Linked DNA regions of Homo sapiens. The protein of the gene in region 3 interacts with the protein of the main gene of each other region in a biochemical or structural test. Each region holds a gene or a part of one and is shown on either strand. Other genes may lie near its edges. The genes, in order: PEX13, PEX5, PEX7 and PEX14.

What was found.
Region 1: the proteins of PEX7 (region 3) and PEX13 form a complex in vitro, tested with the Homo sapiens proteins (one study listed by BioGRID).
Region 2: the proteins of PEX7 (region 3) and PEX5 form a complex in vitro, tested with the Homo sapiens proteins (3 studies listed by BioGRID).
Region 4: the proteins of PEX7 (region 3) and PEX14 form a complex in vitro, tested with the Homo sapiens proteins (one study listed by BioGRID).

Annotation. Positions count from the first base shown.
Region 1 is NC_000002.12:61,041,714-61,048,737, reverse strand, and holds part of PEX13 (peroxisome biogenesis factor 13), read right to left. Parts: intron 3,013-7,024; coding exon 2,887-3,012; intron 267-2,886; coding exon 1-266. UniProt on the Homo sapiens protein: Component of the PEX13-PEX14 docking complex, a translocon channel that specifically mediates the import of peroxisomal cargo proteins bound to PEX5 receptor.
Region 2 is NC_000012.12:7,185,796-7,192,699, reverse strand, and holds the start of PEX5 (peroxisomal biogenesis factor 5), read right to left. Parts: upstream 3,015-6,904; 5' UTR 2,950-3,014; exon of another isoform or gene 2,767-2,949; coding exon of another isoform or gene 2,720-2,766; exon of another isoform or gene 2,339-2,719; coding exon of another isoform or gene 2,323-2,338; coding exon 2,176-2,322; coding exon of another isoform or gene 2,086-2,175; intron 1,813-2,085; coding exon 1,777-1,812; intron 1,475-1,776; coding exon 1,342-1,474; intron 1,132-1,341; coding exon 1,000-1,131; intron 1-999.
Region 3 is NC_000006.12:136,818,287-136,825,608, reverse strand, and holds the start of PEX7 (peroxisomal biogenesis factor 7), read right to left. Parts: upstream 3,018-7,322; 5' UTR 2,944-3,017; coding exon 2,814-2,943; intron 2,712-2,813; exon of another isoform or gene 2,246-2,711; coding exon of another isoform or gene 2,230-2,245; intron 396-2,229; coding exon 338-395; intron 1-337. UniProt on the Homo sapiens protein: Receptor required for the peroxisomal import of proteins containing a C-terminal PTS2-type peroxisomal targeting signal. Specifically binds to cargo proteins containing a PTS2 peroxisomal targeting signal in the cytosol.
Region 4 is NC_000001.11:10,470,418-10,477,954, reverse strand, and holds the start of PEX14 (peroxisomal membrane protein PEX14), read right to left. Parts: upstream 3,006-7,537; 5' UTR 2,989-3,005; coding exon 2,953-2,988; coding exon of another isoform or gene 2,875-2,952; intron 1-2,874. Other genes in the region: DFFA (DNA fragmentation factor subunit alpha), read left to right, coding at 5,497-5,632. UniProt on the Homo sapiens protein: Component of the PEX13-PEX14 docking complex, a translocon channel that specifically mediates the import of peroxisomal cargo proteins bound to PEX5 receptor.

The DNA.
Region 1 (7,024 bases), on a different chromosome or scaffold from region 3:
GGAATCAGGTGCAACTGGAACCTTATTAGTTTCAACAAAAACAGATTCAAAGGCAGCTTCCTGTTCATCCAAAGAATCAGCAACCGTGGCTCCTTTAGTTAGTGTTGGGTTGGTAAAAGATTGTTGCTGCTTGGAAACTTTACTTGATTCCACCGTTTTCCTACCTTTTCTTTTGCCAAGAATTTTGACATAATTCGCAGGTATAAGTCCTGTTGTTTGGCCATCAAGGCTAGCCAGAAGCCAACCACGCACTTTGGGTTGTTGTTCTGATGGAAAAAAAAGACAGTCTTGTAATTACAATATACTTTGGAGGTCCAACAGAATAGTAATGGTAAAATATCACATTCAGGAAAATCTGTTATGCTTACATAGTAGATAACAAATAGTACATGCATATATATTCAAAATCAAATGCTGAGTAGGCTTAACAGTTCTAGGGTCCATTCTTCTATTTTTATTTTATACTTACTAAATATTTCCTTCCACCTTGAAGAACATAAAGTTTATTATCAGTTGGTCCATTCATAGAGTAGGGAGATTTAGTTCTCTCAAAACTGAAAACTAACATCAATGTCTTTCATATTTTAAACTGGAGTCTAAAAAATGAATATCTTATTCCTTCTCAACTGGGTAAGTTAGGAATAAGTATAGAAAAGATATACCTTTAATGCACTCAGCTTTCTTAGCCTACTTTTGGCAAAAATATAAAATTCGTTTCATGTGATTGTAATAAACAATCCTGAAGACAGTAAATATTAATTTCAATCCAAGATGGGCAAAAAATTGAAGACCTTTGTTATTTCTAGCCATATGATAAATAAAGGCAATACTCTAAGCTTAAAGAAAGATTATTTAATGTACTCAATTTTCTATTGTATTTTCCTATTTTATCTATATCTTTAAAAAGCTGCTTAACTGTTACAATTTTAGTTCAACATTATAATTTAGGCACAATATAAGACTTTTTAATGTTTAATGCTCTATAATAACAGGAAAAAACAAATTTACCATGTCTACGACCGATTTTGTTCCAAAGGCCCAAACATACTTTTCTTGAGCAATGGAGGAAAGCCAAGAAGCAAGCTAGTGTTAAGAGGCACTATTCATTGAAGAATAATGAAATATAAAATTTTTCTGAAGTGTTATGTAACTGAAAGAAACCACATGACCTCTAATTAAAATTATCTGTGTTGTTCCTGTCTCTAACAACAAATCTTTAAAAAATCATTCGTTTGAAATCCAAAATAGTAAATTGCTATTTTCCCTATAAGAAAAATATGAATAGGCCCAGCGTGGTGGTACACATCTGTAATTCCAGCACCTTGGGAGGCCAAGTCGGGCGGATCACAAGGTCAGGAGTTCGAGACCAGCCTGACCAACATGGTGAACGCCTGTCTCTACTAAAAATACAAAAACTAGCTGGTCGTGGTGGCATGTGCCTGTAGTCCCAGCAACTCAGGAGGCTGAGGCAGGAGAATCACTTGAACCCGGGAGGCGGAGGTTGCAGTGAGCCAAGATCGTGCCACTGCACTCGAGCCTGAGCAACAGAGCTAGACTCTGTCTCAAAACAAAAAAAAAAGAAAGAAAAATACAAATAGAATACCTAAAAGTCTAGAGGTTTGTTTTTTTTTTCTTGAGACAAGGTTACACTACGTTGCCCAGGCTGGAGTGCAGTGGTGCTGTTCCACAGGTGTGATTACAATGTACTACAGCCTCAAACTCCTGGCCTCAAGTGATCCTTCTGCCTCAGCCCCTTGAGTAGGTGGGACTATAGGTGCACACACTGCACCTCGCTTAAGTCTAGGTTTTTTGTAAAAGGGATGAGGCAAAGATTTAGTAATCTCATCCAAAATTTTCAATTATTTACATAGTAATGATTTGAACATTGAAAGTATTTCTTCCCTGCAAAAAATGACTAAAACCAAAAAAAGGGTGAAGTTTCCATAAATAGATCCTTCCATGAAAAAACAGCCAGAGTTGTTAAAAGCACAAGGTCTCAAGTTAGACAAACCTAGATTCATAGTCCAGTTCTATTGCACCTTTGCTTTGTGATACTGGACAATTTACTTATTCTGAGTCTCAGTTTCTTCAAGGGTAAAACAATGACAGGATAATAATAGTACCACTTCACCGTATTATTGTAAGGCTTAAATGAAATATGTAAAATACAGTACCTTGTACATAGTAAGTACTCAATAAATAACATGTTATTGTTATTAGTACCTTTATCAACAAAACATCACTTTTTGCAATAAACTTGAATCCCCATAAATACACATATTTAAAAAAATCCATAAAAATCCTGATAATCATTACTCAGGAAGGGTGAAGGAAAAGGTCATTTTGCCTAGAGTCATTAAAAAGTATCAGTGACTTGGTCCAAAAATAAACCCGAGATGCGTATAAATCTCTTGCTGGGGTTCTATAATACTTCATGACACTATTTCCTAAAATACTTATGATGAAATTTCTGAGGTAAACACTGCTGAAGTAATAAAGAAGCAACACCAGTCCACAAGGACTAACAGCAATGCTTAGATGATGTTACATAATTCCTTTGCTTTATTAGATTTGTTATGTTTAGTTACTGACATCACGTTTTTGTGTGGGGATTAACAGTTTGAAATTCAAGTATTTTGAGTTTAGAAAAGCCTATATAAACAAAGCCTTTCCTTATCTCAGTGAAATAGTATTCGAATAACTCTGCTGGGGCATTTCTTCCTGACTCCTCCAGATTTGGAAGCTCTAAATTGACATGAAAAAGAAGTTCTAGTAACTATCTCTAAGTTAACTAACAATGAACAAGATCCTTTGTTGTAGTTTTTAATACTGCATTTATGAATATCAAAATTTACAGATAATTCCAACTTATTCATAATTTATTACCTTTGAGAGCTAAGTTCAGCATATCACCAGCCCGGAAAGAAATTTCTTCTTCAGATACGGCAGCAAAATCATATTCTGCTCTGGCAACTACATGGTCATCCTCACCACTTGCCCAGTTGATGCTGTCTATAAGCCAAATTAAAATTAGGTTAATAAAATTTACAAAAGAAAAATGCAGATATTTCACTGGCTATGGCTTGCAAACTGCATAAATTTGCCAAGAGAAAAGTCCTCCCCTCCCAAGTAAAAACTATAATGAATACTATGTTAAATCAACAATAGATCCACTAAAGATACCTATTATGAACTTTTTCCTTTCTTTAAGCTCCAACTTCCCGCTCTCTTACCGTGAGCCAGGGGTTGGCAAATTTTTTCTGAAAAGGGTCAGATAGTTAATATTTTAGACTTTGAAAGCCAAGAGGCAAAACAGGATATTGGGCAATTACTTTTATAAAAAGAGGAAACAAAATTTCCATAAATTTATTGACAAGATTAAAAATATAATAACCATGTTTCTTTTTGGTAATACAGGTCTATTTGGAAGTTACTTAGAAGAATGAAATATTTTGGGGGAAGGATATTTCACTTAATTGGAAATCAATTATAAATATTCACTTGCTAATTCTAATTTGTAATAAAATTTGAGGTACTGCATTTTTGAAAATGCCTTTTCACACAGATAGGTAATGTCAAATCCTAATATGAGTCTATGAGTATGTGGTTTTAATTGAGCATATTTATTAGTTGGGAGAGTAATAGGCCAGAATATAATTCTGTTAAATTCTTCTCTTGATATTTGCCTTTTACCATGTTATTACATTGCAGATTAATCACTTCCAAATGAAGATTAAGTGGAAGTTCCTCAATTGCATAGTTAAATGGATTTTGAAATATGGAAATTTCCTTTGTGCTTGCATGGAGGTCCAAAAAATGCTCTGGCATTGTATTAATAGCTTAAGCTTGGAAAATGTATCTGCTGCCAACTTGCGTGGGAATGGAGATACTGCTTGTGTTAACTTCTGACAGTCTGAGAGGTCTATAAAGCAGTGTGACATTACTTGTGAGTCAAACTGTATTAGGTGTTGTCAAAACTTTACTCCAGCATAAGTTTTGCATATAAGCACTGTTCTGCTTTGTGGTTTCCGTTTGAATTACTTAAGAATATAGGTCAGGCGTGGTGGTTCACACCTGTAATCTCAGCACTTTGGGAGGCCGAGGCGGGTGGATCTCCTGAGGTCGGGAGTTTGAGACCAGCCTGACCAACATGGAGAAACTCCATTACTACTAAAAATACAAAATTAGCCGGGCATGGTGGCGCATGCCTATAATCCCAGTACTTTGAGAGGCTGAGACAGGGGAAATTGCATGAGTCCAGCAGTTCAAGACCAACCTGGGCAACATAGGGAAACCTTGTTTCTACAAAAAAATAAACAAAATTAGGCAGATGTGGTGGCACGCGCCTATAGTCTCAGCTTGAATCGCTTGAACCTGGGAGGCAGAGGTTGCAGTGAGCCGAGACTGCACTACGCACTCCAGCCTGGGCAACTGAGTGAGGCCCTGTCTCAAAAAGAAAACAACAACAAAGAATATAACTAAGTCTGGGCTGGACATGGTGGTTCATGCCTGTAATCTCACTCAGCACTTTGGGACGCTAAGGCAGGATTGCTTGAGGCCAGGAGTTCAAGACCAGCCTGAGCAACACAGTGGAATCTCGTCTCCACAATAAATAAATAAATTGGCCAGGTGTGGTGGTGTGTACTTCTAGTACTAGCTACTTGGGAAGCTGAGGTGGGAGAATCATGTGAGCCCAAGAGTGTGAGGTTGCAGTGAGCTATGATCACGCTACTGCACTCCAGCCTGGCTGACAAAGCAAGACCCTGTCTCCAAAAAGAACTCAGAATTTAACTAAGTCTGCAGTAAAAGGTGATTTCCAAAGCTGAATGGGTTTAATAACAATAGCTGAAAAGGAGTTCTGTTCAGAAAAATTTCATTCTTGGCCTCAATCTCAAAAAAAATAAAATAAAACTTAAACCTTGTTCTGCCATTGAATTGCCATGCGGTAGGGCAAGTCGGGATCTTCAGCTTCTGTATCTGACAAAAATTCACAAAACTGACAATGATTATGTCACAAGAGTGAATAAACTTTACCTTGACACTACTAGTTCAATAACACATGATAAATTCAAATATTTTCTGCAATGTGGCTGCTGATAATACAATGAATAACCATAAACAAAAAAACTGTATTTTCAAAACCTTTGTAACTTTTGTCCAACTAGGCCTTTTCCTGCTCCACCTAGAATTTTCACCATTATCAGGTGCAACACATCTTAGCAGATTCAGGTTGTACGGAATCAGTGTTTTCACCTTCTTTGAAAATGTTCTTGTCTGTAGTTGAACCATGACTATTCATAGAGGCTAATTCTTCAGTCATTTCCAATTCACCATTGATTTCTCAAATAAACAACTAAGCAGTACTGTCTTTTTTTTGAAAATTTGTTTTTTTTTTTTTTTTTTTTAGTAGAGACAGGGTTTCACCACGTTAGCCAGGATGGTCTCCATCTCCTGACCTCATGATCCGCCCGCCTCGGCCTACCAAAGTGCCAGGATTACAGGCATGAGCCACCGAACCCAGCCTGTCTTTGTTTTATGCTACTTTAACAGAATACTACAGACTGGGTAATTTGTAAACAATGGAAGTTTATTTGCTCACAGTTCTGGGGGCTAGGAAATCCGAGATCAAGGGGCATTTAGTAAGGGCCTTCTTGTTGTGTCATAACATGGCAGGAGGCATCACATGGCAAAAGAGTGCATGCGAGAGAGTAAGAGGGCCAAACTAGCTTGTATAACAAACTCACTCTCGAGATAATGAACTCACTCCCATGATGACAACATTTAGCCAACAGATTTAGCAAGTATTAATATCCATTGGGTCATGATGAGCCAAGGAAAAACATTCAAATCATTTGTCTTATTTTAAGTTGGCCATGTTGTTCAAAATGCCATCAACTCTTCAAGGAACTGTTCTCACTGAGAAGCTAATAATCTTAAACAAGTTTACTTTCTCTGGACATATTTTTTTTGGCTGTTGCAATGACCATGAGTAAACAGGTTTCCTTGCTTGGGTAACATATGAACCTCTCAGGAACTTATTTTGGTTGCAGCCTCATTTTATTTTATTTTTATTTTGATGCGGAAATTCTGCTGTGATGAGAATTCCATTTTAAATTTTCTAATTTTTTTGACTGTTGATTTTCTGTGATGAGTGCTCAATCTGGTAATGCTGATATGTAGTATAGCCATTTAACATAGCTATAGTGTCATTGTATAATAAATACAGTTTTTTTTACTATCTAATTCAATAACGAAATAATTCATACTATACTGTGCCTTGAAAATATGACACTCAAAGTACACTTTTTTCTTGTGTGTCATATATGAATTCATAATTTCAAAAAAAACCCACTGTAGTATAACAATGTATATATTACTCATCATGCTATCAAGTTATAACTAAGTTACTGAAATTTGTAGTGGGCAGAGCAAAAGTGAAGCCATCGGAATTTCACATATAGTCTCTGTGCAAACTATTCAATTCCACTGTTACAGTGGAAAAGCAGCCATAACAATATGTATGGAAATAAGTGTGGCTGTGCTCCAATACAACTTTATTAATGAAATTTGAATTCTATATAATTTTCACATCACAGATTATTTCAATTTTTAAAACATTCTTTTAATTTCCCAGCAACTGAAAAGTATAAAAACCATTTTTAGCTTGTGAGCTGTACAAAAATAGGAGCAGGCCAGATTTGGCCCACAAGCCACGGTTTGCCAACCCCTGCTCTAAGAGCTAAAGTAATAGGACCTCAATTTTGCTTCTCCTCAAAAATCTCTTTGTATCATTACCGATTTCCTCTCCTTTTGACTCAGATAAAAAACCGTCCTTCCTTTTTACCTGCCAGGTTCCGTAAGATCACACCCTCTCTTACTTCCTATAGTAGCTTCTTCATCATTTAACTCCTATCTTTCCCTTATTTATAACTGCTCCTTCTCTACTGACTCCTTTCTTTTAGCCTAAAAACATTCTCAGATCTCCTCACTTCTGAAAAGACAAAGCAAAACAAAAAACTGACAA
Region 2 (6,904 bases), on a different chromosome or scaffold from region 3:
GAAAAATTCAGGAACCATGATGATGTGACTCCCCGAGATCCTGGAACTTGGTAACTTTCTCTATGTGTATCTCTTGTTATTCTTGATATCTTAAACAGGAAAAAGGCTAACTTTTGAGAGCAATCAGGAAGAGGAAAGCTGAAGAGACTGCCCTTCCCACCATGTACCTGATTAGATAGGCTTAGGGCAAGAAGAATCAATCATAAAAGATGCAGGAGCAATGGATGCTTTCAAAGAGGAAAAATTAGGCTGAAACCTTTAAGTCTGTAGCAAAGCAAGAAAGAAGATAAATTGCAGGCCTGACAGTATAGCATCACAGTTAAGGCCACAGGGTCAGGAATCATTCAAATCCAGGATCAAATCCCAACTCTACCACTGACAAAGCTGTGTAACCTTGGGCACACTTCACCTCTAAGCCTCAATTTTCTTATCTTTAAACTAGGTCTAAAAACAGTAACTACCTCTAGGGTTCTCATGGAGAGTAAGTAGATAATGCATTCAAAGCATGTAACACAAGGCCTAGAACGTAACTATTGTTATTAATTTTTATTATCATCATCATGGTATGGTCTTTACCTTCTAAAGCCATACACTTCAGGCACTGGAACTTCACAATAACACTCTGAAGGCCCCAATTCTGTTCCAAATAACTTAAGGCCAGAATCCCAGGTGCTGTAGTGAATACTCTCTTCCTCGGCAACACTGCCATCCATCCAATCTGTAGATCCTCTCCACTAAACCACAGTGATAAAGTAAAAAGGCCAACCAAACTCTTCGTTCTCTCTATCCAAAATCTCTTATCCAGTACAAACCCAGTCCTCTCTTTAATATACATTACATTCCGTTATCACCTAAGGGAAATTGAGTTCAGTACCCTACCCCTCTAGAAATGAGTCATGAGACCAGAAAAATCGTAATCACACTATAACGTGAACAGGGGAAGGGTATAGAATTCTGTCCCATAGAAGCCAATATAGATTTTCCCATAACAAGTTTCACCTGTAACTTCAGAGATGAATTCTTGGGACCAGTCAGTCTCATTATAATCCTGAGTTACATCCACAGCATCTCCAGCTGCAAGAAACTCCTGGGCCCAGTTCTCAGACAAGGCCAAGTCTGCCACACCAGGGGCTTAAAAGAGAGAGAGAGAAAACTAAGAAAGAATACATACATACCATTCCATCATGCCTAAAGAACCCTGAATCCACGTGAAAACACTCTGTTACTTTTGTCTCCTTCTGCATCTCAGGTCCCCAATGCCAGCAGCATCCAATGGAACCCCCTTCCTTGGCCCTGGCTACATGGAAAACGATCTCCCCTCCCACTAGACTCTGGACTCACCTCTCTGGGGAGCCTGGCGGAAGTTTGACTGCTCAATCTGCTGCATCTCAGCCAGGAGGTCATCCATCTTGAAGGTCTGAGGGGCACGGGACACAAGGGGTGCATTCTGGTCCTGCAGGAATTCAGCCACCAACTGCCAGAAGGGAAATGATGAAATGAACCCATAGGCTTGGGAGGCCCCAGCAAGAGGCAGGACCCACTGGAGGGGGATCCCAATGTTAGATACAAGGAAAGGAAAACACAGAAACTGGAGACACATAAAGAGAAACTGTCTTTCCATAGATTTAGAAGGACGAAAAAATACATTTAAAAACAAGCAGGCATTCTCATTCGGTCAGGAAAGCCCAAAAATTGAAATACGGGTGAACTAAGTTTAAAGGTAAAAACACAGTGGGCAAGAGAAAAATGGGACAGAAAAGAGACTGGTCTATTTACCTCATCTTCAGAAGCTACTCCCAAAGGCTTGGAGGCCTAAGAGAGAAAGACAGAGATGTACAATGACGCAGTTCCTCTAAAATCAGGGGTTGATGAAGCCCATAGGCATCTGAGCCTCGGCTTCTTCATCTATAAAATGGTTGCATTTATTTAAAGGTGCACAGGGTTTTCTAGTGTTTATAAACGCTCAGTAAGTGGTAACTACTATGATTTGCAACACAATAGAGAAAGCAGTTATACCAAGATGTGCAAACAGCCCCTCCACCTCAGACCACCACCACCTGGGCTTTCCACCTCAAGAACACTCACTGCCTCAGAGGCTGCACCTGGGCTTTCCACCTCAAGAACACTCACTGCCTCAGAGGCTGCACCTGGGCTTTCCACCTCAAGAACACTCACTGCCTCAGAGGCCGGGGCTCCGGGGGGCCAGGGGCCAGGCCTCAATCCCTCCTGCCGAAGGGCCTTGTCCTGGGTGAAGTGCCCGGCGAGCTTCATGAGCGGGTTGGCACCCCCGCATTCGGCCTCCACCAGCTCCCGCATTGCCATGGTGACCGCCAGCTCTCTGATGGACACAGGAGGTTTGGAACTGAGGTACCCAAGCCAGACCCTTCTCACATCCACAACTCTGCCCGTATCTGAGGAAGGCACACAGGCGTCTGCCCCACACTGGCCGCCCTCCACCCCAGTGCTTTTGCTGCGACCCCCACCTCTGCCAGGAGTTCGAGGGAGGTCGGTACTCTCTCCTGCCGCCCCCCTCAAAGGCCACCGCTTCCAGCCTGCGCCTCTGCAGAGGCCTCCGCGACTACGGTCCCATGGGCTGGGGGCCAGCAGCTGCCTCCACAAAGGGGCCTGGACCCCGGGGGACCACGGGGACGCTTCAACAACCAGGCTGGACGGCGACACTGCCCGAAGAAGGGACAGTGGGAAAACAGCCCGACCATACCTAGCCCCGCGCAGCCCCAGCACGCGGTGAGCACGGCAGAGGAGCATTCCCTCCCCTTAAGTCACCGGAGCCCTTCCCCCGGCTCGGCCCGGTCCCTCCCGCGCTCCCCACCGCCCATCTCCCCGGCCCTGCTGCCGCTCCAGCCCCGCCCCTGGGACCCGCGAGGCCACCGCAAGGGTGGGGAGGGCCCAGGGACGCGGCCCCGGGCCCCCTCGGGGTCAGGCGCTCACCGCGGAGCGCCGCGCCGCACGACCCGCCGGGGCACCAGGTGCTGGCTTGGGGGAGGGGAGAAGAGGGGGCGGGGAGCCAGGGGGCGGGGCTCAGGCTTAAAGGGGCCGTGACCGCCCCGCAGCGGCCCAGGCCCAGCGGAAGCTGTCTGAAAAGGCGGGGCCTTAAGACTGCGACGCAGCCTGACGGGAAGAGCCGTGAGTCTTAAAGGGGAAGAGCACCTTAGAGAGCGGGTCTTGGAGAGTCGCCTTTAGGAGCGCTCGAAAAGGCCACGGGCCCTAGGATTTGTTTGACGGAAAGCTCAAAGAAGAGTGGAGCTAAGAAGGGCTTCCCAGGCTCTGGGGGAAAGCCGAAGACGCGAGATCCTAGGCTCAGTCGATCCTGCCTCTTCCCTTGGGCGCATTGTGACCTAAGGGGATTCAGTGCCCTTTCTGAGCCTCAGTTTTCCCCTCTAAAATGGGGCTGGCTAATGTTCCCAAGCCCAAGAAAGAGAAAAGCCCTAACACCAGGGGCTGGGGAGTCCAGTCCGAAGCCTTCTTCAGCCTCCTAGGCCTGCCCCGCTTCCAAATAACCCCTAGCGGGGTAGCGTCACTGTCTCCATGGAGACAGGGGCCCGCCCCCGCCTTAATCCCTCTCCACCTCTGCATAATGGGGAAAATAGCACTGCATGATGACAAATTCCGGAGACCAAAATAGGGTCCAACGCATCCTGAGACCTCGAGCTGGTAACGTACAGGGAAGGTGAACAGTGAGTCAGCCCTTCCTTCCGCTAAGTCAACATAGTGGCCTTATTCCCATCACTCCAGGCTGGGAAAGGACAAACATACAAGAAATGCTTTTAATCACGGAATAAGACTAAGCCTCAAGCCCCCTCATCTGCCAAAGAGTGTGCTCTGCTGTCAAACCTCAAAGTCATTGAGAAACAAACCCTGATAATCTCACCCAGCTTCAAGACCAAGGGAGTCCTAGTGTCATGGAGAAGAGCAAGGAGGGGCCCAGGGCTGCCGGTAAATGACCAAGGGCAATAATGCCAGACGAACAGAAGTACCATCCCAGCCCAGGGTGCATGAGCGGAGGCAGGCAGGCAGCAGGTGGCGCCATGGGCCGGGCTTGTTTCCTGGCTGTTCTGCAGATTTCAGAGGTGGAGGCCTCAGGGGGCCACAGGGAATGTCTGTGTAAACTCATCCCTGGGAAGACAGAGAAGCTGCTCTGACACCTCAGGGGAACAGAATGGCAGGGGACAGACCATAAGACTGTGCAACATTTCTCCTTTTCCTTGCCTTTTCGCCCTCTTTCAGAGGCCCCACTTCTACACCCCGTTTTCTTCCGGAGCACACAAATCCCAGCCCTTGGGCGTCCCCTGTTCTCAGGCTGCCATCGTGAGGAAAATACCTGATAAACTAAACCACACAAGGATGAAGAGATGCCCTCCAGAAGGTGCATACTTTTAAAAAGAGGACCCCCTAGAGAGAGCAATGTTTAAAGGAACCCATCTGATACAGTAGAATTTCAGAACCTCAAGGCAACCAGAGTTTCCCAGTACCACTTAAACATCACAACACACATAACCTTCTGCTCTGCTAGGAGTTTATCAACTGATTAGCCGTAACTCACTTTGTGTGCAGATCTTGGAAGAATGCTAATAATAATAACTGATGTTTACTAAAATCCAGGTGTTGTGTAAAACACTTTATGTATCTCAATGTTTTTAATCTTCTTAATACCCCTATTAAATAGATATTAGTAGACCCACTTTACAGATAAGACTTGTGCAAAATCAGATGGCTAGGAAGTCAAAATTTAATCCAGGCATAACTCTAGGCACCTACTTCCCAGTCTTAGAGAAGACTTACTGATAAACCATGGAGATCTTTGATCTCCTAGGCCATAGAATCATTCACAGAACTTGGTCCACAGTCCCAGCCAGAGGTGCTGGGAAAGGGCTAATAGAGTGACTTTGGTGTTTAATATTTAATTTACTGAAGCTCTAGATTTGAAACCCTAGATTTTGTTAATCCAGGTTCAACTTTAAATTCTTGTTCTATTCATAAAAGTAGTAATTTTTATAAAATAAAAATAATTTTTACTTATTCTTTAATGTTTGACGAATTCAAGTTCAATAGATGTTTAGACACACATTGCATTGACTGTGTGCCAGGCATTGTTTCAAGCACTTTTCAACTATTGATTTATTTAATCCTCCTAATAGTTATTAATAATAACTATTATCCCCCATTTTACAAAAGAGGAAACTGAGGCACAGAGAAGTTGAGTGACTTGCACAAGGTCATACTAATAAATAGCAGAGCTGGGATTTGAACCCAGACCACGGTCACCAAACTGTAAAGGGCTCAATGGTCAATATTTTTGGCTTTGTAGTCCATGCAGTCTCTGTCACAGTGACTCAACCCTGCTGTTGGAGCACAAAAGCAGACATAGGCCACACCTAAACAAATGAGCATGGCTGTATTCCAGTAATGCTTTTTATGGGGACTGAAATGTGAATTTTATATAATTTTCATGTTACAAAATATTCTTCTTCTTTTGATGTTTTTCCAACTATTTAAAAATGTCAAATACTTATTTGTTTTGAGACAGTCTTGTTCTGTCACCCAGGCCGGCATGCAGTGGCGCAATCTCGGCTCACTACAACCTCTACCTCCTAGGTTCAAGTGATTCTCCTGCCTCAGCCTCCCGAGTAGCTGGGACTACAGGCACATGCCACCATGCCCAGCTAATTTTCGTATTTTTAGTAGAGATGGGGTTTCACCATGTTGGTCAGGCTGGTCTCAAACACCTGACTTCAGATGATCCACCCCCCTTGGCCTCCTGAAGTGCTGGGATTACAGATGTGACCCACCGTGCCCAGCCAAAAAACGTCAAATACTTCTTAGCTTGCAGACTATGGAAAAACAGGGACCAGGCCATAGTTTGTGGATCTTTGACCTACACAGTCTTATTCCAGAGTCCATGCTCTTAAACACTGTGCTGTACTTCTGCTTTTTAGAAATAAAAGACAAATTTCCTAATATTTTTAACTATGTGACATTTAATATTCATATTTTAAATACCTGACAGGGCAAACAACACTACTAGGCAAAACCTTTCTGAACTTTTATTCAACCCTTTAATAAATCAAACTTATAAACATTTATTCAATTTTCTTAATCCTCTTAAAGTCATATGTCTAAAACTCTTTTCTTTTCTTTTTTTTTTTTTTGCTGTTGCAAGATTTAATAGAGTGAAAACAGAGCTCCCATACAACGGGAGGGGACCCAAAGGGGGTTGCCACTGCCAGCTCAAATGCCTGGGTTTATATCCCGATCATTGTCCCTCCCCCTGTGCTCTCAGGCAATAGATGATTGACTATTTCTTTACCTCCTGCTTTTAGCCTAATTGGTGTTTTAGTGAGCTCTCTTTACTACCTGATTGGTCAGGTGTGAGCTGAGTTACAAGCACCCTGTTTAAATGTGAGTACAGTCATCTTCCCCAGCTGGGCTTAGGAATGCTTAGTTGGCCTAGGAAATCCAGCTAGTCCTGTCTCTCAGTCCCCCCTCTCAACAGGAAAACCCAAGTGCTGTTGGGGAGGTTGGCCAACGACTGCTTTAACTGCTTCCTGCTGAATTGGGGCATAGTAGGTCATGCAGTTGAGATTTCCTCAGCAGGGGTGCCTTTGATGTCATCAACATCAGAGCATGGCCTAGCAGGTCCAGGGGTCTGTAGTAGATCTTAGTCATGGACTGCATCTGGGGCTCCATTTGAAGAGCCATTTGTAGTTTTTACAGCTTTGATTCTGGAAGAGACAAACTTAACAAGGAGGTTAAAGATACAGGGATTGAAATGTATGGCCTGAAGTGCAGGGGGAGGCACATCCAACAGTTAGTAGGGTTTGGGGATAAAGATAAGCCAGTATTGGCTGGATACGTTCCTCACTGAGGGCCCTGGTGCCTTTGGATA
Region 3 (7,322 bases):
TGAGCCAAGATGGCGCCACTGTACTCCAGCCTGGGTGACAGAGCCAGACTCTGTGCATAAAAAAAAAAAATTTCTTTTAGAGACGGGGTCCTCCTATGTTGCCCACGAGGCTGGTCTTGAACTCCCGGCCTCAAGTGATCCTTCTGCCTCAGACTTGGGAATAGCTGGGACTACAGGTGCGCACCACCACAATCAGCTAAAAATAAGCTTCATCCTATGCAAACGCCAAGGTTCCTTTTATACTGTATATTAAAACATTAATCAAAGAGTCAAAACCTAATTCTATTAAGGCTTTAATAGCAACAATATATACCTTTAATAATTTCAGCCCCCTTACCTTCTAAAAAGCCTTAGCCCAGCTTCATCTGGATCCAATATTAGTAGGGTTCCACAGCCTAAAGAGAAAAAAAATCAAGGTCATCCCTTTGAACCTGCCAGGGTAACATCGAAAGTCAAGGAGTTATCAAGTAATTGATACCTGATTTTAATACCACAAATTTTTCCCCAAAGTATTTGGGACCTTGAATACCAAATGGTCAGGTGATCAATTTCTCCCTAAAGTTTTTGGGACATGAATACCAAATGTGTTCTCTATTTCTGTTTTTCCATATTGTACTTCAGTTACTAAATATTCAACTTCCCATTGCACCTATGATTGGAATTCAGACATGGACCTAACAGGGGGGTGAAATACTTAAGGGCCTACTCTGTAGCCAGACAAGGCACCAGAGACACAAACCTTCCAAGTTGGTGTTATCATTCCTACTGACAGATGAGAAACCTCTGGCTTACAGACCCCAGGGACTGCACTCCTCACCAGTAAATCTAAAACACATCTCACACAGGATTTTAAAACAAAATATGAATGCGGAGATACTTGGTGGGATTTACTACATAACTGGTGGTAATAAAGTGCTGAAAACAGTATTAATATGTTACCTGTCAAAGATTATTTTACCAAAGGGCCATTGTATTTTAAAAGTTATGTTTACTTTTTATAGAGACCAAGGGGGAAAATCTCTTCTATTTAAACATGACTGAATTTTTTTTTTTAAATACCAATTCCCTTTAAAGAGTTTTTGCATAAGATTTTAAGTAGCATTACAGGCCAGTCACAGTGGCTCACGCCTGTAATCCCAGCACTTTGGGAGGCCAAGGCAGGAAGATCGCTTGCACCCAGTTCCGGACCAGCCTGGGCAACATAGTGATACCCTGTCTCTACAAAAATAAAAAATCAAAAATTAGCCAGGTGTGATGGTACATGCCTGTGGTCCCAGCTACTGGTGAGGTTGAGACAGGAGGATCATATGAGCCCAGGAGGTGGAGGCTACGGTGAGCTGTGATTGCACCACTCTACTCAACCTAGGCAACAGGGTGAGACCCTGTCTCTAAAGAGAAAAAGAAAAAAGAAAAAAAGAAAACTACTACCATTATAGACTCATGAGTCTTCAGTCTAACTGGTGGGCCATGTAAATCTGAATGTGCAAGCACTAAGAGCTAATAATGAAAATAAATCAAGTATTTCTCTGAGTTTTAGAAGTAACATTTTTTTCTGCTGTAGGACAAAACAAAAAAATACAATAGACCACTGACATTATGAAATGAGTTTTTGCATCTCGCTTCAGTGCGTATAATAGCTAGGACATGAATTAAGGCAAAAGCGAGAATGAACCTACGCCTTTTCATCTAGTCCACGGACTAGATGGACTCTTTTTTTTGAGACGGAGTTTTGCTCTTCTTGCCCAGGCTGGAGTGCAATGGCACGATCTCGGCTCACCGCAACCTCTGCCTCCTGGGTTCAAACTATTCTCTTACCTCAGCCTCCCGAGTAGCTGGGATTACAGGCATGCGCCACCACGCCCGGCTAATTTTGTATTTTCAGTAGAGATGGGGTTTCTCCATGTTGGTCAGGCTGGTCTGGAACTCCCGAACTCAAGTGATCCGCCCACCTCGGCCTCCCAAAGTGCTGGGATTACAGACGTGAGCCACCGCACGGCGCTTGGCCTTTTTTCTTTTTAAGACGGGGTCTCAGTCTGTCACCCAGGCTGGAGTGGAGTGATGTGATCTCAGCTCACTGGGCTGGGGCAGAGTGATGTGATCTCAGCTCATTGTAGCCTCAACATCCCGGGCTCAAGCGATCCTCCCGCCTCAGCCTCCTGAGCAGCTTTAACCACAGGCTGAGCCAATGCGCGCGACGGGAGACAATTAACTGGAGTCTGTAACACCTACTTGCGAATGTGTGCATTCCTCGTTAGACAACTACAGGTAAGAACTGAACTTGATATATTTCATGGTGTCACCCGTGGGACTCCAGGCGTCCATTCAGGAGCATCGTCCTTAGGAAGGCCAGCCCGCAGGTCGCAGCTCAGTGCTCGAATGCAGACTGGGAATTGTGGGCCAACTCGCGAGCCCTGGGTCGGTTCTGGCTCAGACCGTCTTCCCCGTACTGCTGTGCCGAGCGGACCGATCCAAGGGACCGCGCAGGCTCCCCCGGCTCTCCCTACGGGGACGTGTGCCTGGGCGTGTGACACGTGGCGGAGGCAGCGCGGTCTCAAGGAACAAGGACACGGGCTACTAGGCTACACGTATATGCACTTGCACACAACTGGAAGATCGACTCCTGCTTCAGACCAACTCCTCGCACTCGGCAAAGAAAGGAGAAGCGCCGACCAGCGCCTCTTCTGCCCCCTGGCGTGGACCCGCGGAACCGTCTACGCTCAGAGGGGCTTTCCCTCGAGCGCGAGGAACTGGAGCCCGGCTGGCCCCCGCCTCCGCCTCCGCCCCCCGGCCCCAGCTGCGCGGCGCCGCCTCACCCGCGATGCCGTAGTGCTGCGCGGTGGCGCAGGCCAGGCGGCCCGGCAGGTACGGGGAGAACTCGGCGGCGTAGCCGTGGCGTCCCGGCGTCCGCAGCATCCGCGCCGCTCCACCGCACACCGCACTCATCCCGCCCGCCGCCCCCGGCCCTCGCTGCCCCGGCCGCGGAAGCCGTTCCGAGTCGGAGGCACACTGGCGCGGTTAGAGAGACCAGGCAGACCGGACGGAAGTGTGGGCCCCGTGCCCTGTGTTTGAGATTCTGATTGGTCCGCACAGGAAAGGGCGTTGACTCCGACGGAGACCATTTTTGTTTTGGGTGAATCCAAACTGAATTGCGCCTGCTGCAAAGATACAGATCTATCAGGGGAGTGATCCAGGGTTAGGTATTATTAATAATTACGACAGCTTTTGTCGTTGCATCTCAGCCTCCTCTGCGGTGCTATCTGGTTTTTATTTCATTGAGCGTTTGGAAGACTGGCATCAGGAACTTTTCCTGATGATTATAAAGTGAGAAAAGTTACAGCCGACTCTGAAACCACGCAGCGCGTCCAAAATTGCGTGCTGCGTTGCCCAAGGAAACTGGAAGCAATGAGAACTTAAGTCCGTGGAGTCACTGCGGTCTTTAGGAATAAGAGCGTGGGCTGGTGGGCTACTTTCACACTGTAACTGGAAAAGATGAAACACCAACTCCAAACCAACTCCCCATGCTTGGCAAGTGAGAAAAAGGAGCTGGCCAGTTCTAATGAAGCTAAGCAAAAAAGCAGCACATCATCATATACAACTTTTTTAAAAAGTATTACTATACATGTATATATTGTATGGTAATAAGTGCTCAGATGCTGGTGCTCATTCATTCATTTATTGCCAGGCATATACTATGTGGAGAATGACCAAATATAATTTATCTGCCAAACCAAGATACTTTTGAGAGTAAAGAGGGTGTAATTATTAAGCCAGGTCAACAGGCACAAACCAAGTCGTATGATCATCTTAACCATATACCAAGAACAGTACTAGGCATTTGGGATTCAAAATAATGGGATATGGTCCATGGCCTCAAGAGATTAGAGAAGAAGACTAAAAGAGAAGTCATGTAATTAGTTAAGTGTAATCAAAATACTGTAGAGGCTATGATAAATTTATATGGGGTATTTTTAAAAGGTGATTGTCCGTGCCAGAGGTATGGAAATTGCAGGAAAGGCTGCAGAAGAGAGATAAGTCTTTATGGTGATTGCACACAGATGAGTAGGTTTTCTTTAGGTAGACAAGAAGATGGAGATCTTTGTAGGAGCAGGAATAACATGAGCAACCCAGGAGATTTAAACCAGCATGATCCATAGGGGGTCGTGGCTGCCAGGACTCAGCCTGGCCAGATGGAAGGGATACGGTGAAAAAAATATTGGGTGGGGAGACTGTAGAGTGTTTTACTGGGGCTAGATCATGAAGAGTCTTATATACCATACTAAGAGAATTGGATTTCTACTGTAAACAGTGAAAAACAGTGGAAGTTTTCTAATGTGAGAAATTAAATGACCAAGGTTTTATTTTAAAAAGTCCTGCAACACTAATATGGAGGATAGAGTTTGGAGATGGGGAGGCCAGTTAAAAGACTTTTGCAGGCCGGGCGCGGTGGTTCACACCTGTAATCCCAGCACACTAGGAGGCCGAGGCAGGCGGATCACTTGAGGATCCAGACCAGTGTGGCCTCTATTATTTTGGATTTTTATCATATGTAGTCACTGGAATGTATGCTGCATGAGGGCAGAAATTTTTGCTTGTTATGTTCGCTGTTGTATCCCAAGGACCTGGTATTTAAGCATTCAGGAAATGTTGAGTGAATGCAGCCTAATACAGTGCCTAAATGATCAGTGTGTTTTTCGTAATACTACAAAAAGTAACCTGGAAACATTCTGGAGTTTATTGAAATGCTAAATAGGCGTTAATAAAATATCAAAGTAAGCAAACATGAAGCAGCTGGGACCTTGGCAAAGAGTTGTATATAAAGAGTTATCCAATCTAAGCTAAAAATAGTGTGGTATCTCTGGGAGGGAGAAAGGCTGGTTCCAGCTGGGGTAAACTATTTACAGTGACCTTGGACATACACACACACACACAAACTGAGCTATTACCTGCTCCTTACCTAACCATACATGATTATAGCATTGTAAAATATTTCATCCCACCTGTGAAGCTTTCTAAAATATAAACAACTAAACATATAAAAAATAAACCATACTCTTACACTAGATTTTGAGCATCTCGAAGTAATGTCCAAGTCTAATTTGTTTGTGTCTCCAGTACCTTGAAGAATGTCCAATATATAGTAAACACTGCACAAATGTTTGACAACTTGAGGTGAACTGGAAAATTAAGGAAAAGGAACATGAAATGCTCCTTAGATTCTCCTTGTCCCCTGCCCTTGCTCCACACCCCTTCCTCCACCCATGCTTTACTAAGTGGAGTCCAAGTTTGCTAGGGGTATGGATAGAATTGGAGTTAAGAATTGCCTGGAAGGGACGGGCATGGTGGCTTATGCCTGTAATCCCAACAATTTGGGAGGCCAAGGCAGGCAGAACACTTGAGGTCAAGAGTTTGAGACCAGCCTGGCCAACATGGTGAAACCCTGTCTCTACTAAAAATACAAAAATTAGCCAGGCATGGTGGTGGGCACCTGTAATCCCAGCTACTCTGGAGAAGGCTGAGGCAGGAGAATCGCTTGAACCCTGGAGGCAGAGGTTGCAGTGAACTGAGATCACACCACTGCACTTCAGCCTGAGCGACAGAGCGAGACTCCGTCTCAAAAAAAAAAAAAAAAAAAAGACTCTTTTTGTTGTCTTCCACCTGTTCTTGTCATTGTTTAGGAGTACTTGGTATTTCCCAACTGAGACAGAAACCATTTTTTATGAGCATTCATTACACCTCAGAGTTGTGTAACTTCTAAACTTGGCCAACTCTGTGGAAGACCATTTAACTCTGTGGAAGGCCTAATAATGTAGGCAGACATGGCTAGATGTCAGGTTTCTATAAGGATCTACAATTATATTTAGATTGTTTTGTTTTATAACTGCTATGGTGACCTCACAAAGACTCTAACTGCAAATATTTACCAACCCACATCATTTTTAAAACTAGTCTATCTTTCCCATGGAGAGAGACCAGAAGTAAAATAATTGAAATACGTGGTCTTTCTACCCAGGTGAATCATTATCCTAGGTAAATCGGCAGGCTGCATATGGTAGTTATGGGAAATAATTCCAAGAAAGGATGGATAATTTCATTGTTCCTTTTAGCTCTGCACAGCATTGTGCTGGGTACCTAGTTAGCCTTTAATCAATGTTTGCCAGAGGGTTAATGTAATCATCATCCAAGAACTTTAAGCACTATCTTCAAATATATGATGGATACTTGGACTGATGCACTTTAGAGACCCTTAAAGCTCTGAGAGTCTCTAATTATGGGCTAATTGTCTACCTTGCTCGTTTTATATCATTCATCACTTATTATTTTAGTTATACTTTCTTGTTAAAAATTTTAGAATCTGTGGTAATGTAAAATGGTGCAGCTGATATGGGAAATAGGATAGCAATTGCTTAAAAAATTAAACATAGAATTACCATATAATCTCGCAATTCCACTTTTGGGTATATATCTAAAAGAATTAAATGCAGCAATTCAAACAGATATTCGTACACTCCTGTTTGCAGCAGTATTACTCATAATAGCCAAAAGGTGAAAGCAACCCAAGTGTCCATTGGCAGATGCTATGGTCTGAAAGTTTCTGTCCCCCCCAAATTCATATGTTGAAATTTAATCACCAATGTGATGGTTTTAAGAGGTGGGGTGTTTGAGATGTAATTAGGTCATAAATGAGATGATTACCTTTATAAAAGAGGCTGGAGAGAGAGCCCTCTTACCCCTTCCACCACGTGAGGACACGGCAAGAAGTGAACATCTATGAACCAGAAAGTGGGACCTCACCAGACATAAACCTGCTGCTGATGGCTTGATGATGGACTTTCCAGCCTCTAAAACAGTGATAAATATATTTCTGTTGTTTATAAGGTACCAAGTTTATGATAGTTTGTTATAGAAGCCTGAACCAACTAAGACAATAAATGAACACATAAAGAGAATGTAATATATGCATATGGTGGAATATTATTCTTCCCTAAAGAGGAGGGATATTCTTACATGGATGAACTTTGAAGACATTATGCTAAGTGAAATAAACCAGGCATAAAAGGACAAATACCGTATGATTCCACTTATATGAGGTACATAGTGTAGTCAAATTGATACAGACAGAAAATAGAATGGTGGTTGCCAGGGGCAAGGGGAAGTGGGGAATGGAGAGTTATTGTGTGACAGGCATGGAGTTTCAGTTTAGGAAGATGAAGTTCTGGAAATAGATGACAGTGATTGTATAACAATGTGCATATACTCAACATCACTGAAATGTCTGCTTAAAAATGGTTAAAATGGTAAATTGTATGGTATGTATATTTTGC
Region 4 (7,537 bases), on a different chromosome or scaffold from region 3:
ATCGCGCCACTGCACTCCAGCCTGGTCAACAGAGTGAGACTCGGTCTCAAAAATAAATAAATAAATAAATAACTCATTTAGTCCTCAGAGCAACTCTGTGAGATAGGTCCTAGTATTTTCCCTGTTTTGCACATGGAGAAATTAAGTCTAGAAAAATTAAGTAGATCTGTCCGAGATGACATTGCTGGTAAGTTAGTGGAGTTAGGATTCCAAGCCAGTGGGTCTGGCTTTAGAGCCTATACTTGTAACCGCTATTCTACACTGCCTCTCAAGGGAAGAGAAGGTTATTCACCTTTAATAGCTGGAAACCAGAGATTGATATGACAAGGCTAACCAACAAACTTTCTGTGAAAGACAGAATACTGGCTCAGCCCCACAGTTCTAACCCTACACAACAAGGCGTGGGGGAATTAGCTAAACAATCCTTTCAATCCTACTCTGCTTTAATCGGAGAAATGGGAAACTGGATTGATCAAGACTTGAAAATGAAACAGGCAATTGCTGAAGAGCATTGGTTCATTCAAAAAGCGTGCATTTGCTTCTTGTTAGATAGCCATAGAGTCTGTTATGAAAAGTTCAAGTTTTGGCCAGGCACTGCAGCTCACGCCTGTAATCCCAGCACTTTGGGAGGCTGAGGTGGGCGGATCATGAGGTCAGGAGATCAAGACCATCCTGGCTAACACGGTGAAACCCCATCTCTACTAAAAACACAAAAAATTAGCTGGGCATGGTGGCGGGCGCCTGTAGTCCCAGCTACTAGGGAGGCTGAGGCAGGAGAATGGCGTGAACCCAGGAGGCGGAGGTTGCAGTGAGCAGAGATCGCGCCACTGCACTCCAGCCTGGGTGACACAGCGAGACTCTGTCTCAAAAAAAAAAAAAGAAAAGTTCAAGTTTTTCCCCCAGGCTGCCAGCATGTTCTGTGGCAATCCTACCTCCACCAGCTTTGGAAAGGAGGGCAAAGGAGAAGCAGAGCTGAAAATCAAACAAGTGATGGCCATGCCCCCTTAAAGGACCTTAGATCCTTTTCTATTAAATACATATACAGAGAGGGCAAACTTGCAAAACCAAAAGAATCCTTGGGCATAACAGTGGCTCCAAGTGGCAAGATTTTTAGTACTGTTTACAGCACTGGCAAATTAAATGTCCTATAAGAATCAGGAACAGAGCCGGGCACGGTGGCTCACGCATATAATCTCAGCACTTTGGGAGGCTGAGGCGGGCAGATCACTTGAAGTCAGGAGTTTAAGACCAGCCTGGCCAACATGGTGAAACCTATCGCTACTAAAATTACAAAAATTAGTCAGGTGTGGTGGCAGGCACCCGTAGTCCCAGCTACTTGGGAGGCTGAGGCAGGAGAATTGCTCGAACCCGGGAGGCAGTGAGCCGAGATTGCGCCAATGCACTCCAGCATGGGCGACAGAGAGAGACTCCGTCTTAAGAAAGAAAAAAGAATCAGGAACTGAGGACACCCTTCAATCCCAGCCTGTGGGCATTCCTAACACAAAACAATTCAGAGAAACCCAGACCCCAAGATGCCTTAGTATTTCAGCAAACTAAATGTGGTAAGGCAAGAAAGGAGAGGCCCTCCTCTCGAGACACTTGCCAAACTCCAGAACACCTGACAGTGAGAAGGCCAGAATCAGTCCTTGTTATCTCCCATGTTTTACAATCAAGACATCTTCTTCCTGAATCATTCACACTGCTAATAGAAACTGGTATGGGGGAACACACCAACTCCTTTAAGTTCAATTCTTGTAACAGACGTGCAGAATAAGACAGTAAGAAACACTAAGCGGTGGTCTTCTGCCTCTGAAGGAAGTGAAATACTAGTAAGTTGCTGAAAACTCTTAGAGGTGCTTCAAGGAGATGGGAGAGGAGGAATGAGGCCCCAAGTTGAAACTATTTTCTTCTTCCTCATTCTAATCCTAACTAAACTCAAAAATGTATGGATGACTAGTGGAGTCACACAGGTTCAATACAGGCTCAACAGAGCACACGATTTGGGGCATGTCACAAACCCTTAGTATTCATTTCTGTGAAATGGAGGTTAGTAGCCTGCACTTCATAAAGGTTGTAGTGAACACTAAACGAGATAATAGATGTAATTTGTGCTCAACATGACACCACACAGGCAGTTAAATGTAAGATGTCTCTTAGCCCTTTTCTCCTCACCCCACCCTACCCCACCTTTGGACTATAAACCCCTTCGGAGACCTTATCATCCACTGCCTCCCGGCCGCAGAGGCACAGGCGTCAACGCTGGTCCTTATGGTCCCCTTATTGGAGTGGGATTTGTCTGAATCTGCAGGTGAAAAGCTAGAGCGGAGCCCTCGGCCAACAAAACCAAACCCAGGGAAGCGAGGATGGGTCCTCAGCCAAAAGCTTGGTGGCGTCTGTTAGTCACAGTGCGTCCCTTTCCTATCAACGCACTGAGAGGGCTCGACTAGATTATTTCTGACTATCCAACTTGACGAGAGAAGCGCAAAGGTGACCACAGATGAAGAGGCTGGCAGCCGCTCCAGGAGGCTGAGGCCGTGAGGGAGTGGGAACCCTAATGGAAACAGGCCCCTCCCCGGAGGGGACAGCCGGGAACGATCGATCTATCCTCTCCTTCTCAAGCCCTCGCAGCTCAAGGCTGGGGACTTCCCAAGGGTCCCGTCACCCTCCCCAACAAGCTCAAGTGGGACCAGAGGTGCTGGCAGGCGGGAAGTGGGGACCCGGGGGCACAGCCAAACACCAGAGCCCGGGCTCCGGAATGTGGTCAAAGAGGGGTCACCGGGGGGAGGGGCCGGGTGGGGAGGACCTGGGGAGGGGCGGGGCTCAGGAGGGGGCAAGAGGTCGGGGTCCCCAGCTTCGGAGACTCGGGGTCCCTACCCGGCTCCCAGCCGTATGCTGAGCGCCCCCTCCAGCCGGGGTCTCCGCCGCACAGCGGGGCAGTCCCACTCCCCTTACCTGGCTCGGCTGCTCTGCCTGCTCCGAGGACGCCATCTTTCTGAGGCCTGACTAATCAACCGCCGCTGGGCGAGGTTTCTCCCAGGCGCCCTCGCTCTCGCCCTCCCGCCCAGACTAAGGTAGCCGGAACAGAGCCTGTCGATGTAGGGGACTGGGGCAGAGGGGTGGAGCCCGGGTGTCCGGGTCACCTTGCATAGTTTCCGTTAAGACTCTGCTTTCCAGGAAGATCCCAAGTCTATATCTTCTTTGCGTTGTTATATGTGTATTATTCTGGTTTTGCTTTTTTTTTTTGAGACGGAGTTTCGCACTTGTTGCCTAGGCTGGAGTGCAATGGCGCGATATCGGCTCACCGCAACCTCAGCCTCCCGGTTTCAAGTGATTCTCCTGCCTCAGCCTCCCGAGTAGCTGGGATTGCAGGCATGCGCCACCATGCCCGGCTAACATTGTATTTTTAGTAGAGATGGAGTTTCTCCATGTTGGTCAGGCTGCTCTCGAACTCCCGACCTCAGGTGATCTGCCCGCCTCGGCCTCCCAAAGTGTTGGGATTACAGAAGTGAGCCACAGCGCCCGGCCCATATTATTCTTATTGAGTTAATCTCTGCCCATCCCCACAGTGCCATGGGCACATTTAGGGACTTGCCAATGGATGAATGCGAAGAAACTTGGAAATTAATTTTTAGACATCAGTTCAGTTCCATTCATTGAGTGCCTACTATATGCTAGGGACTTTGGTAGGCCTTGAAATAAAAACATTCAAGACTCAATCCCTACTCCCACGCCCAGGCCAAACACACTTACAATTACAGTATTATGGGGATAGGACTCGGATAAGTGTGCAGGTCTATTGGGAGAACATAAAAGGGGGCATTTTGAAGAGAAGAGGCTTCTACAAAACGTCATTATTTTACACTGGTTGAATTGTTAGATTTTTTTAATTGTTAGATTTTAAATTAAATATTGGACGGGAGCAGTGGCTCACACCTGTAATCCCAACACTTTAGGAGGCCAAGGCAGGAGGATCCCTTGAGCCCAGGAGGTTGAGGCTGCAGTGAACTATGATTATGCCACTGCACTCCAGCCTGGGCGACAGAGCGAGACCTTGTCTAAAAATAAGATAAGAAAATAAAAAATGAAATTATATGAAAAAGGATACATACATTAGAGTTAACCGCCAGCTCCTATTATAGTTGTGTTTTGATCAATATAGACTGCTTAAAAGGGATGACTTAATGAATAATTCCTCCTACTAAACGCTGTTTTAAATGTCTAAACTTTTCTTGAGATAATATCCAATTTCCTCTCCCACGTTTTTTTTGTTTGTTTTTGCTTTTGTTTTTGTTTTTGCTTGAGACGAAGTCTTGCTCCTGACGCCCAGGCTGGAGTGCAATGGTGCGATCTGGGCCGACTGCAACCTCCGCCTCCCGGGTTCAAGCGATTCACCTGCCTCAGCCTCCCAAGAGCTGGGACTACAGGCGTGCGCCATCACGCCCGGCTAATTTTTGTATTTTTAGTAGAGATAGGGTTTCACCATGCTGGCCAGGCTGGTCTCAAACTACTGACCTCAGATCATCTGTCCGCCTCGGCCTCCTAAAGTGCTGAGATTACAGGGGTGAGCCACCGCCCCCGGGGCCCTTGCCCACGTTTTTATAAACAAAATATGAGGTGGGAGGATTGCTTGAGCCCAGGAGATCAAAACTGCAGTGAGCCATCATCGCGCCACTGCACTCCAGCCTGGGAGACAGAGCGAAACGCTGTCTCAAAAAAAGAAAAAAGAAACAAGGAAGGAAAGTGTCCCCCGAATGAATAAATATGAGCAGATAATTACTTCTAGTTTACATAAAATGCCCTCTTTTAAGAGAGGAACTTTTTGATCATTTTTATTACTATTCTTTTAATCTTAGATGTTTATTTTTCAGGAGGAAAAAAACAAACTTTTCCATAGTAGCAGTATTAAAACAAAGATGAATATGTTGTCAAGAGGCATCTGAACAATCTCCAACAGTGCCGAGTCGCATTTCCCCTTTCCTCTCCGATGCATTTGAGACTTTAATGCTTACTATATTTATTTAAGCGTTTTGTTCTGAGACCCCAAACTAATTTGCACAGTTGAAGCAGGAAATAGAATGGGTGGAAACATGCGGGTGTCTGTATTAGCATTATGCATCTCATATGCGAATAGGAATGCTCTAAAAATTCAATACAGTATACATGCGTGTGCATCGTCATGCAAAATAAGTCTCTATTGGCCTTATATTTGAACGCGCGAATGCAGCTCCTAAAAGTTAAAAACAACTCCTAGGCTGAATCGCGCGATAGAACGAAAGCGGCTTTAAACCCAGAGACTACAGTTTCCGGCATGCTTCGACGCCACACGTGATTAGCGGCAACTAGAACTACATTTCCCGGCGTGCCCTGGTCTCACGTGTGATTTGCTGCGGAACGAACTACATCTCCCGGCAGGCTGCGGAAGGGGGTCGAGTAGAAGGACCGCCGCTCCGGCCTCCCGCGACTTCTCGAAGGTGGGCAGGTCCCACCTTGTGGAGGATGGAGGTGACCGGGGACGCCGGGGTACCAGAATCTGGCGAGATCCGGACTCTAAAGCCGTGTCTGCTGCGCCGCAACTACAGCCGCGAACAGCACGGCGTGGCCGCCTCCTGCCTCGAAGACCTGAGGAGCAAGGGTTGGCTCGGGACCCCGGGCGAGGGTGTGGGGGAGCCAGGGCCGGGTGAGGACGTCCGGCGGGGGCGAGGCGGGGTCAGGAGAGGCGACTTGGGGATTCTTGTATCTCGGGTGGAGGCTTGGGACAGAAACGGTCCGAGTGGGCATAGCGATTTACAGATTTAAGGCGCTTGAGCGTAATTAATCTCGTGTGAGACTCCACGGTGGTGGGAAGACAGCCAGGAAGCAATGTGCAAATTAAGCCAGACTCGGCTTAGGTCTCTTGCCTGAAATCACTTCGATGTTGGACCAAACGGACCCCACTGGGTTCCTGCCACTCCGCCACACTCAGATGGTACAAGAACCCCCAGCTGAGCCCACGGCGGTGTGGGGAGGGGTTTCCACCGTCCGCTCTGGCAGGAACCTATGCAGGAAAGAGGGAGCTGCTACTGACCATTTCTGGAGGTCCAGACAAGGAACGTGAGTTGTAAGTGACGGAGCCGACGGAAGTTCCGAGCCCGGCCCCATACCTTTACCAGCTGCTTGGCCTTGCACTTAACCAGCTCTCAACCCTCAGTTTTCTCATCAGCAAATTGGGTATAATATTTATAGCCCTGCTTCAAAGGGTTGTTGGTTCTCTCAAATAAGATGATATATTTAAGTGACTTACAAGTCTTATTAGCCAGTAGCAACAAATCGCTTACCCAAAGAAGTTTTACAGGTTACATGTGTGAGCCAGCCCCAGGCATGTAGTCACAGTGTGTGTCAGAGGGCACAGTTGCTTCCTCTCAGTCACCAACAGAAATCATATGGAAATTTTCAGAGACCCATGAACAGCCAAAGCATTATAAATGCTTTGGTAACATGGATTTTGCATATAAGCATTTATGTATTTTTTTTCCTGACATTAGATTACTTTACTTCTAATTCCCCTTCAGTGCCGTGGCTGGATGTGCGTGGCACAGAGGCTGGTGTTCTCTGCAGTCCAGCGCATACATGCCTTGCTGTTCTATTGGGTGGTAGACAACACCGCTGAAGGATATTTGTAGTCTCTTGGCTATTTCTGATCACTCCAGTCCCGTTAGTATTTGAAGCATTGCTATCACTAAATGGAATAGTACAGACCTGTCCTGGAGAAAGCCTCTCCGCCAATGATAATGATATGAAAAGCTACTGATAGAAGCTTCCACTTCTTTTATACTTTCCCATAGGTTAGAAAAGAAGCTGCTAAGGAAGATACTGTAAAGAACAAAAAGCATTTTCTTTTTTTTTTTTTTTTTTTGAGACGGAGTGTCACTCTGTCACCCAGGCTGGAGTGCAGTGGCGCTATCTCGGCTCACTGCAAGCTCCGCCTCCCGGGTTCACTCCATTCTCCTGCTTCAGCCTCCCGAGTAGCTGGGACTACAGGCGCCCACCACCACGCCCATCTAATTTTTTGTATTTTTTAGCAGAGACGGTTTTTCACCATGTTAGCCAGGATGGTCTCGATTGCCTGCTTTGTGATCCACCCGCCTCGGCCTCCCAAAGTGCTGGGATTACAGACGTGAGCCACCGTGCCTGGCCTTTTTGGTGTATTTTTTGACATTTTTACACATAGGAGAATTTAAGAGGACACCTGAGGGCCGGGTCCGGTGGCTCACACCTGTAATCCCAGCACTTTGGGAGGCCGAGGTGGGCGGATCACGAGGTCAGGAGATCGAGACCATCCTGGCTAACACGGTGAAACCCCGTCTCTACTAAAAATACAAAAAAATTAGCCGGGCGTGGTGGTGGGCGCCTGTAATCCCAGCTACTCCGGAGGCTGAAGCAGGAGAATGGCGTGAACCCGGGGGGCGGAGCTTGCAGTGAGCCCAGATAGCGCCTGGGCACTCCAGCCTGGGCGACAGAGTGAGACTCCGTCTCAAAAAAAAAAAAAAAAAAAAGAGGA